2 separate regions of the Homo sapiens genome follow, and region 2 is linked to region 1. The links come from fine-mapping of genetic effects on plasma protein levels. Region 1 holds a variant in brackets. A gene starts in the other region. All regions are shown on their forward strands.

Region 1 (5,383 bases):
GGACTTCAGGCAGATAAATGAGTGTTAGAATAAAGCTTCTTACAGTGTGTGATGGTCTCCAAGGGCCTTTAATTTAAAATAATGGGCATACCAGGGTGCCATATTTTAGGGTAAAATTCCCTGGTCTCCTTCCGTGGGAGAGTGCACCATGCCCAGAAAAATTAGGATTGGTATATTCATGAGCAGTATCAGAGTCACGGCCACCCATAGAGCCTGCACCACCATGCCCAGAAGAACGAGGATTAGTATATTCATGAGCAGTATCAGAGTCACGGCCACCCATAGAGCCTGCACCACCACGCCCAGAAGAACGAGGATTAGTATATTCATGAGCAGTATCAGAGTCACGGCCACCCATAGAGCCTGCACCACCACACCCAGAAGAACGAGGATTAGTATATTCATGAGCAGTATCAGAGTCACGGCCACCCATAGAGCCTGCACCACCACGCCCAGAAGAACGAGGATTAGTATATTCATGAGCAGTATCAGAGTCACGGCCACCCATAGAGCCTGCACCACCACGCCCAGAAGAACGAGGATTAGTATATTCATGAGCAGTATCAGAGTCACGGCCACCCGTAGAGCCTGCACCACCACGCCCAGAAGAACGAGGATTAGTATATTCATGAGCAGTATCAGAGTCACGGCCACCCGTAGAGCCTGCACCACCACGCCCAGAAGAACGAGGATTAGTATATTCATGAGCAGTATCAGAGTCATGGCCACCCATAGAGCCTGCACCACCACGCCCAGAAGAACGAGGATTAGTATATTCATGAGCCGTATCAGAGTCACGGCCACCCATAGAGCCTGCACCACCACGCCCAGAAGAACGAGGATTAGTATATTCATGAGCCGTATCAGAGTCACGGCCACCCATAGAGCCTGCACCACCACGCCCAGAAGAACGAGGATTAGTATATTCATGAGCAGTATCAGAGTCACGGCCACCCATAGAGTCTACATTTGGTTAGACTATGGGCTTAAAACTGTAGGTCATCTCTTATTAGCTGATATGAGTAACGTTACTTCCAGTAAATTTACATTTCCTTGCTTATAAAATGCTAAAAATAAATTGCTTGGAGGACAAAATGAAACATTTGAAAGCACCCCACCTCCTAAAAGTAATCAATATGAAAGCACTGCAAAGTTATCAATTAGCAAGAAGTTTGGTTTAATTTATTGGCTGAGAATTTGATGAGTTGCTTGAATTAGTGAGTCAATAAAGCCAAAAATATTGTCAGTTATTTTCATGTAGGAATAAGCAGTGTCACAAAAAATTAGTGTGTTTAGTCTGATTGTATTATTCTTTAAAACAGTATAGATTCAGTATTGTTTACAATTTCATTTTAAAATCTAATTTATCCCAAGTAATGAAAACTATGTCTAAATAGTGACTTCACTACTTAGAGGGAAAGAGTGTAAAGTCCCTTAATGAGAAAACCCATCTCTGCAGCATAGTACCCACGTTCTCCTGGGTAGATGAATGTATGCTAAATGCCCAACTTGATTAAAATCGTCATGGCACCCTCAGACTCAGCAACCTCATATCCATATTTGTTTTTATGGAATGAAATCATTCAAAATGTGTGATTAATTTTATCTCACCCATTCTTTTAAACATTGGAATATATCATTCAACAACAACAACAAAATACTCTACAATCCGTAGCTTTGTGTTGCAGATATGTACTTCACCAAAATACACAGGCTGTAAGTGGCTGACACAGAATATTGAAGAAAATCAAAAAGAGTATGCAAAGGGTAATGAGAAGTTCTAGTTTTGAATAAGGTGACCAGGAAAGACCCCGCCCTGCAGGGGATAACCCAGCAAATATATGATCTGGAAGAAAGCATTCAGGCAGCAGAAATGAGCGCCAAGGCCTGACGTGGAGGATGGCAGGTGTGTTCCAGGAGCTGTGAGGATGTCAGTGTGAGGACTCTGTGGCAGAGTAAATGACAGGAGGGTCGGAGAGACCAAGAAAGGGCTAGATAGGCAGGCCATGCTGAGCATGATACTTTATCCCTGAGCGAAATAGGACATAGTTGAAAGTTGTACCTAGAAAAATAGTTTGATTGGACTAATGTTTTATGAGGATCACTCTATATGCTTTCTTGTAAGTAAATTACAGAGAGGAGAAGATTGACATGGGAAAAGCAGTTAAGGGTCTTTGCAGTAATTTGATGAGAGATGATTATGTGTTGGAATAGATGTTATTACGGAAGGTGCCGCAAGATGGACAGATTTTTGTTATATACTGAAGGCAGAGCTGTTAAGATTTGCTGTTGGATTATATATGATGTGCTATAAACAGGAAGAGCCATGAATGATTCCAAGGTTTTGGATCTTGCGAACTGGCAAAATGTGATTGCCACTTATATTGATGAGGAAAGCGACAGTTGAAGCAGAAGAAGGGCACAGGGTTTTGGATATGTGGATGTTGCGATGAGTGCTAAATATTCAAATGTTGCTATCAAGTGGGCAGATGAATGTACAATAGGGAGTTTCAGGGTAAAGTTCAAAGCTAAGCACATGCATTGGGAATCAGTCAGCATATGAATGGAATTTTATCAAAGCAATGAACCAGCCAGCACCCGGGTAGATAGGGAGTGAGGTGAGAGAGAGAGAAGAAGTCCAAGTCTTGGGACTATAGGTTTCTCCAGTGGTGGTGGTGGAGGAGAAGAGAACAGCAAAGAGGATCAAGGAGTAGTGAGCAGTGAGGGAAGGGAAACATGGATGAGTGTTACCTTTGGAAAAGGGAGATTTTCCAGCACAAGTAGATTCTCAGTGTTGAGAGATACAGAAAAATCATTGAAGATGAACTCTGGGCCGGGCGCGGTGGCTCACGCCTGTAAATCCCTGCACTTTGGGAGGCCGAGGCGGGCAGATCACCTGAGGTCAGGAGTTCGAGACCAGCCTGATCAACCTGAGGAAACCTTGTCTCTACTAAAAATACAAAATTAGCCAGGCGTGGTGGTGCATGCCTGTAATCCCAGCTACTCGGGAGGCTGAGGCAGGAGAATCACTTGAACCCGGGAGATGGGGGTTGCAGTAAGCCAAGATCATGCCATTGAACTCCAGCCTGGGCAACAAGAGCAAAACTCCATCTTAAAAAAAAGACAAACTGACAAGTAACCATTCATCAACACGGAGGTCCCTGGGAAGATGGACATGCGCAGTTTGGTTGGGGTATGGTCACATCATGATGAAGAATTGAGTTTAGGAGAGAAGGGGTAGGGAGAGGAATGGGATACAGACCATATCAAAAGCCATTTCACAGATCTCTTTTGTTAGAAATGAAGCAGACCACTGTGCCGGAAGAGGAATGGCTTGGGAATACATGACCTGTTAGATTGTGTTAAATGCACAATCCATGGAGACCTACCTTTCAATCTCTGTTATTTACCTCTAGAGTTTGGGAAGACCACATAAACTCTTTGACTCTGAATCTACTCTTGTGTAATGTAGGGATGACAATGGTGACCCTCAGGGTGGTTACATAATAAAAATAATGCAATGCGCAGTTACGTGACCACTCAGGTTGGGTATCAATAAAAATTCACTAGACCGGGCGTGGCAGCTCACGCCTGTAATCCCAACATTTTGGGAGGCTGAGGCGGATGGATTGCTTGAACCCAGGAGTTCGAGACCAGCCTGGGCAACATGGCAAAACCCCTTCTCTACAAAAAAATACAGAAAACTAGCTGGGCATGGTGGTGTGTGCCTTCCCAGCTACTCAGAGGGCTGAGGTCAGGGGATGGCTTGAGTCTGAGAGGTGGAGGCTGCAGTGAGCTGTGATTGCACCACTGCACTCCAGACTGGGCAACAGAGCGAGACTCCGTTTCAAAAAAAAAAGTAGTTCACTGTAAGTGTTTAAAGGCAAATAAGTATAGTGGTAGTGGTAGTAGCAGTAGCAGTAGCAGTAGCAGTAGAAACAGTATTTGTTCTGATATTAAAAATCAAACTATATTAACATGTTAGTCTGATTTTGCATTGCTATAAAGAAATACCTGAGGCTGGGTAATTTATTAATATAAGGAAATATGCTTTATTTTGGCTCATGGTTCTGTAGGCTGTACAGGAGTCATGGTGCTGGCACCTGTTTCTGGTGAGGCCTCAGGACACCTACAGTCATGGTGGAAAGCAAAGGAGGAGCCAGCGTATCACATGGCAAGAGGGAAGCAGTGAAGTGGGGAGGCCCCAGGTTCCTCTTAAACGACCAGCTCTTGCATGAACGGATAAAGAACTCACTTATCACCAGTGGGATGGCACTAAGTCATTCATGGGGGATCTGCACCCATGATCCAGCACCCCCCACTAGGCCCCACCTTCAACATTGGGAATCACATTTCAACATGAGACCGGGAGGCGATACACATCCAAACCATATTATTTATTAACTTACTACTTATAAGCAATGCTAATAAGGAAATGCACTGAATATTTTACATCCCCCCTTCACTGAGGTTTCATATCTAGATGTATTTATTTATTATGTATATGGGTCAAATGTCTCATCAATCTCACTGGGACTTCAGAGTATCAGTATTTTTTATTGTTATATAACGCATAACTACAAGCTTATGTGCTTAAAGCCATACCATTTAGTAGCTCATGGTTCTGAAGACCAGACATCCAAGTGGGATCAGCTGGCTCCTCTGCTTAGGTTTTCTCAAGGCCCAAATATGGGTGTTGGCCAGGCCAGGCCAGGCTTCTGTGTAGGTCGGGGGAAGAACCTTACCTCCAACCTTATTCAGGTTGTTGGCATAATACAATTCTGTGCAAAT[G/A]CGGTACTGAGATTCCTGTTTTCTTGCTGGCTGTTGGTTGGGGGCTATTCTCAGCTCTGGAGATCACTCTCAGCTCTAGAGGTCACTCGTTTGTCTCTTCATGTGACCTTTCCATTTTCAAAGCCAGCAAAGAGATATCAAATCCACATCTTATTGACCTTTCCTGCTGCCACCAACCCAATAGCCAGAGAAAACTTTCTGATTTTACAGGACTTGTGGGATTTGATTAGACGCACCTTGATAATCTCTCTCTTGTCATATAGTGTAACATACTCATGAGGCTAACACCAGGGTGTGAAGGTCATGGGGTCCATCTTAGAATTCCGCCTACCACAGTAATATAACTTTGGAAGTAGTGGATTTAATATTAATAAAATTCTATAGATTTTTAAGAAAAAAATTCCTAAGGGGTTTATAAATTTTATGTTAAATGCAGAAGATCCTCCTAAGTGCACTCAAATGCTTTGGATGTAAGCCAGACATGGTGGTGTGCACCTGTAGTCCCAGCTGCTGGGGAGGCAGACACGGGAGGATTGCTTGAGTCCAGGAGTTTGAGGCTGTAGTGTACCACGGCTATGCCCATGAATAGCTC
Region 2 (5,383 bases), not on the chromosome of region 1:
CACTTAAAAATACTGAATGCTTTCCCTACCTACCTCCCGTGAGGTCTGGGGCAGAGCCTGCAAGTCTACATTTTTTTTTAAAAAAGTGCTTTATACTGGTGATTCTAATGAACATCCTAGATTAAGAATCATTGTATTGTAAAACGTAGGAAATAAGCAAGAGGTGACTATGAGGATGTTATGTGTCATAAGAATATAGAAATGGTTTCAGCTAAGTGAGAGAATGAAGTGGTCCATATGAAGAGAATGCTTAGTAGACTATTTTCAATTTTGTTTTTAACTTATGCTAGGCAAAAATTTCTAGGCAAAAATTCCTTTCCCAAATTAAAGATTATGAAAATACTTGATAACTCAAGATTAATATCACTTTAGTACTATAAAGTGGTCTGACAACTTAGTCTTTTCTTTGGAGTCCCCATCAATAACAGGGAGATAACAACTGACATCATGGGTTTCTGGTGAGGGTTGGGAAAGCCTGAGTCAGTAAGCAAGGGCTCGTAATCCATAAAGCACCTCCTTGCCTAATCCTGGCAAGCATTACCGGGAGCGGGAATGGCAGTGCCACCAGGACCCCGAGACTCCGAGCCATGGGGGCTGCAGCACCCGCGCTGAGGAAGCCAAGGGACGGAGGCAGCAGCGGGAAGACCCGTTTTCGAGGCCCGCCCGGTAGGAGGGCGGCGCCCGTCACCCCATGCCCACTCCTCGCACCCAAGTCAGGCCTCGTCCTCCCAACCCTGCCCCGACCCCACCGTCTGATCCGCGCGCTCCTGGCCACCCCTCCCACCCCGAATCTCAGGACTTTGGGGTGGGGAGAACGGGTCGGGCGGGGCGGATCCCGGGCCCAGGGGAGAGGACCCGGGCTCGGAGGACGCCGCACCCCAACTCTTGGGACCGCCCTCGCTGGGAGACCACCCGGCAAGAGCCCCGCGCAGAGGAAGGCGGGAGTGGGGGGCGCTCCCAGGTAGCCAAGGGGCGGTACCTCGTCGCAGTGGCGATGGTACTCCTCCATGGTAGCGCCGGCTCTCCCTGGGGCGGAGCGACACGCCGGTAGAGCACCGCGGCCGCGCACTGGCCTCCGGGGAGGCCCCACCCCCGTTTATGGCCTAGGGCCTTTCCCTACGCAATCCCCGCCTTTGTGTCGCAGTGGCGTCACCTGGCAGCGCTGGGCGGGCTTCGGGCAACGCCAGGCGTCACTTCAGGCCACGCACTTTTTCCTCGCTTCCTCTGCCCTTTCTGGAAACAAGGGATGAATGTAAAGAACTGGGAATGGCGCCAGTGTGGATCAGATGGGGTGACCTAGTGGCAGTTAGTCTAGACTCCGCACTAGTGGTTGAGTGCCCACTGCTGTGATTACTTGCACGTATTTGTTCATTCACCATCATGTGGCACATAAATGTAGTTAATTTCGTGGTAAACCAGCCACTTTGATTTGTCCACTTACTAGCTATGTTACTTGGAAAAATTCACCTCCCACAGCTTCAGTTTTCTCATATGGAAACTTACCATCATACCTATTTCACTACTGGTTGTAAGGATCTGATGAGAAGCTGTATACACGGCTCCTAAAGTAGATGCTTCTCAACAAGAGAACAATGACTACATTTTAAAATAAATGTAGTAATTTTAAATTAGTAATTTTAAAATAAATGTAGTAATTTTAAATTAGTAATTTTAAAATAAATTACTAATTTCCAGATGATCCTAGACACTTCCTCAAAACCTCACAATAAGTCAGAGGAGTTAGTTCTTCCATCACTGCTTTTATCAAGATGAAACTGAGGTATAGAGAATTTAATTTGCCCAAGGTCATACAGCCAGTAGGGTGTAGAAAAGGGACTTGAGCTCAAGTAGTCTGATAGCAGAGCCCAAGCTCTTAACCACTGTATTACTTTCCTATTGCTACTGTAACAAATTACCGTAAATGTAGTGCCTTAAAGAAACACAGTCCTGTTCTCTTACAGTTCTGTTACCAGTGTAGGGTGTCCAGGTTCTTGGCTCTTTGAACAAAGAATTGGACAAAACGCACAAACAAAGCAAGGAAAGAATGAAGCAACAAAAGCAGAGATTTATTGAAAACGAAAGTACACTCTACAGGGTGGGAGCGGGCAGAGAAGCCGCTCAAGGGCCGGGATCCAGAATCTTCTCTGGTCCAAATACCCCCTAGAGATTTCCCATTGGCCACTTGGTGTGCACCCCATGTAAATGAAGTAGTGGCCCACAATCAGAGGCTGAAGTTACAAAGGCCACACTCCTATGCAAACGTCTGATTGGTTGCAAGAAAGCAACCATCAGAGGCTAAAGTGAAGTTACAAAGTTGCACTTCTATTCAAACAAAGATTTGGCCCATAATCAGTTTGATTGGTTGCAGACAGCAACCAATCAGAGGCTGAAGTGAAGTTACAAAGTTCCACTCCTGTGCAAATGTCTGATTGGTTGCTTTTTGCTCTTTGGTTGCAAAAAGCAACCAATCAGAGGTACTTTAAATTTCCCATCTGCCCTGCAGAAAAGGTGGGGATTTGCAAAGGGAATAGCCTCTGGTCCTTTTGTTACTTAGGCATGGAAGGTATGGAAGGTTAGGGTTTTCCTTTTTTTTTTTTTTTTGAGACGGAGTTTCACTCTTGCTGCCCAGGCCGGAGTGCAATGGCGCGATCTCGGCTCACCCACGGCAACCTCCGCCTCTCGGGTTCAAGCGATTCTCCTGCCTCAGCCTTCTGAGTAGCTGAGATTACAGGCATGCACCACCACGCCCAGCTAATTTTGTATTTTTAGTAGAGACGGGGTTTCTCCATGTTGGTCAGGTTGGTTTCGAACTCCCGACTTCATCGACCTCAAGTGATCTGCCTGCCTCAGCCTCCCAAAGTGCTGGGATTACAGGCGTGAGCCACTGTGCCTGGCCAGGGTTTTCCTTTCAATTTAGTTCTATGAAGTAAGCGTGAAACAGTTTTAAGTTCCCTGCCTCCTGACCCTATTCTCCTGCCTCAGTTCTGGAGGTCAGAAGTCTAAAATGGGCCCATAGAGCTGCATGCCTTCTGGAGGCTCCAAGACAGACTCTGTTTCTTTGCCTTTTCCAGCTTCTAGAGATTGCCTGCATTCCTTGGCTCATGACCCCTTCCTCCAAATTCAAAGCCAGTAGTATCTTTTCTCCTCTCTCGCTTCTGCTTCAAAGGAAGTGTGAGGCATCTCTATAAACGAGAGATGTATGACTCTTGCCCTCCTGTTTCCCTCTCAAGACCCTTAACTTAATCACATATGCCATGTGTCTTTTGCACTCTGTATCATATTCACAGATTCTCAGAATTCAGATGTGGACAAATTTGAGGGGGAGCATTATTCAGCCAACCACAACACTTTTCTATTTTGCTCCCCAGAATCAAAGTTGGAAACCATTAGTCTTCTAGTCCATCTCCCTTATTTTACAAGTAAAACTGAAGCTGAGAAGATAAAGTAACTTCTACAGGGCACATAGGTGTTAACTGGACTCCTGGGCTTCTGAACCTCAGGCTCTTATTTTATGAACTTAGAACCAAACAAGGCTGTTTACTTGATAGTATGGTGTTTGTTATTGGTTCTCCTAAGTTGTGGATCATGCAGGGTTACTGCAGAAAAGTGACTGTAATTCATAGAGGAAGCACATCCTCTTTCAAGAATTTTTTTTACCAAAGTTTTCATCCTATGAGCAACTCCGGCAGTCTATTCATGAGAAGGATTCGTAGTGTCTTTGTGAACATCAGTTTTATTTCCCTAAAGAACTGTTTCTATGCCTGGGTGGGTTAAACCCTGAAGTTACCTAATCTTAATACTGCAAGAGCTACACCAGCACATCTCAAGTTTGTGTTATGTGATCATTCATGATGCATATAAAGTGAGATGAAGAAGTGTTGTTCCAGTTACCATTCCTGTGTAATAAATTACCCCAGAATTTAGCAGCTTATTTACTATATTATGCTCATGGATTCGTTTAGTCAGAAATTTGAACAAGGCACAGCAGAAATAATTTGCCTCTGCTCTGTGATGTCTGGGGCCTCAGGTGGGGAGACTCAAAGACTGGAGGAAATTCAATGGTGGGGACCAGAATCATCTGAAGACTTGTTCATTCACATGTCTGATATCTGGGCTTGGATGAATAAAATATTAGCACTTCCAACTGGAGCAACAACACATGGCCCCACCGAGTGGATTGGCTTCTTACCATCATGGCAACCTTAGGGTAGCCAGATCTTTTACATGGCAACTCAAGGCTCCAAGCATGAGGGTTCCATCGAGCATGGCAGAAGATATGTCACCTTTTATCACCTAGTGTCACGAGTTACACAGCAGCCCTTCTACCATACTCTAATCATTGAAACATTCACTCAGATTCAAGGGGAGGGGACACATAATCCACTTCTCAATGGGAGAAGTGTCAAATAATTTGGGGCTCATGCTTTAAAACTACAAGTGGGTTTATTAACTAGCATCCTGTGGTTGCAAGTAACAGAAGACCCAAATAGGATGAGCTGAAATAATGGCATTTATTTTTTTATATAACCAGACTGATATGGTTTGGATCTGTCCCCAGCAAATCTCATGTTGAATTGTAATCCCCAGTGTTGGAGGTGGAGCCTGGTGGGAGGTGATTGGATCATGGAGGCAGATTTCTCATGATGGGTAGCACCATCCCCTCAGTGCTGTTCTTGTGAGAGTAAGTGAGTGAGTTATTATGAGATCTGGCTGCTTAAAAGTGTGTAGCACCTCCCTCCTCTCTCTCTTCTTCCTGTTCTAGCCATGTAATATGTGCCTGCTTCCCCTTCACCTTCCACCATGATTGTAAGTTTCCTGAGGCCTCCCCAGAAGCAGGAGTCACTCTGCTTCCTGTGCAGCTTGCAGAACCACGAGCCAACTAAGCCTCTTTACTTCATAAATTATCCAGTCTCAGGTATTTCTCATTGCTGTAAAGCAATGAGAGAATAGACTAATACACAGACATACAGAGGCAGAGATATTCCAGGTTCGTTTAGTTGCTCAACAAATTTTGGGGCTTCTGTGCTTTTCATCTTTCCATGCCAATATCCTCAGCATGTCAGCAACATTTAGCCTCATGGTCATACACGGCTGCATTAGTTCTGGTATCGCTAGGAACAAAGATATCACGTTCAGTGACTAAGATGAGCATTTTCTGGGGTTGATCGGATTTTCTTAGGAAAGAAAATCTTTATTTCAAGTCCTCAGGAGTTTTCTCCTCAGGTTCCAGTGGCCAAGATTGGGCCACGTGACTCCCCACCGGGCAAAACATATGGGACAACAAATGTTTGTTTTTTCATTCTGTATGGTGAAAAGTGAGTTCTGCCAGCAAGAAAAAAAAAATTGATATAAAGTAAATGTTGGTAGGTCAGTCCTTTCCAAA

Which allele goes with the higher level. Positions count from the first base shown, and alleles are read on the strand shown. Strength reflects both the effect of a copy and how common the allele is.
For the plasma level of the protein whose gene starts at base 1,070 in region 2, allele A in region 1 goes with a lower level than allele G (moderate association).

The links. PIP is the posterior inclusion probability: the model's chance that the variant is causal. The UK Biobank Pharma Proteomics Project read protein levels with antibody pairs (Olink). The fine-mapping took linkage between variants from a reference panel, not from the people measured, so its PIPs are less certain.
Region 2: DYNLT3 starts here. The variant in region 1 is fine-mapped to the plasma level of the DYNLT3 protein (UK Biobank, PIP above 0.99).

What each region holds. Positions count from the first base shown.
Region 1 is chr1:247,870,117-247,875,499 of GRCh38, forward strand. The region is part of intron 5 of TRIM58 (tripartite motif containing 58); the gene reads left to right. Among named protein-coding and RNA genes, the nearest start is that of TRIM58, 16 kb to the left of the region's middle. The variant G/A (reference allele first, on the strand shown) is at 4,792.
Region 2 is chrX:37,846,502-37,851,884 of GRCh38, forward strand. DYNLT3 (dynein light chain Tctex-type 3) reads right to left here and starts at 1,070. Exons shown (of 5, transcript NM_006520.3): 1 at 980-1,070. The coding sequence starts at 1,009. RefSeq lists a silencer at 734-843.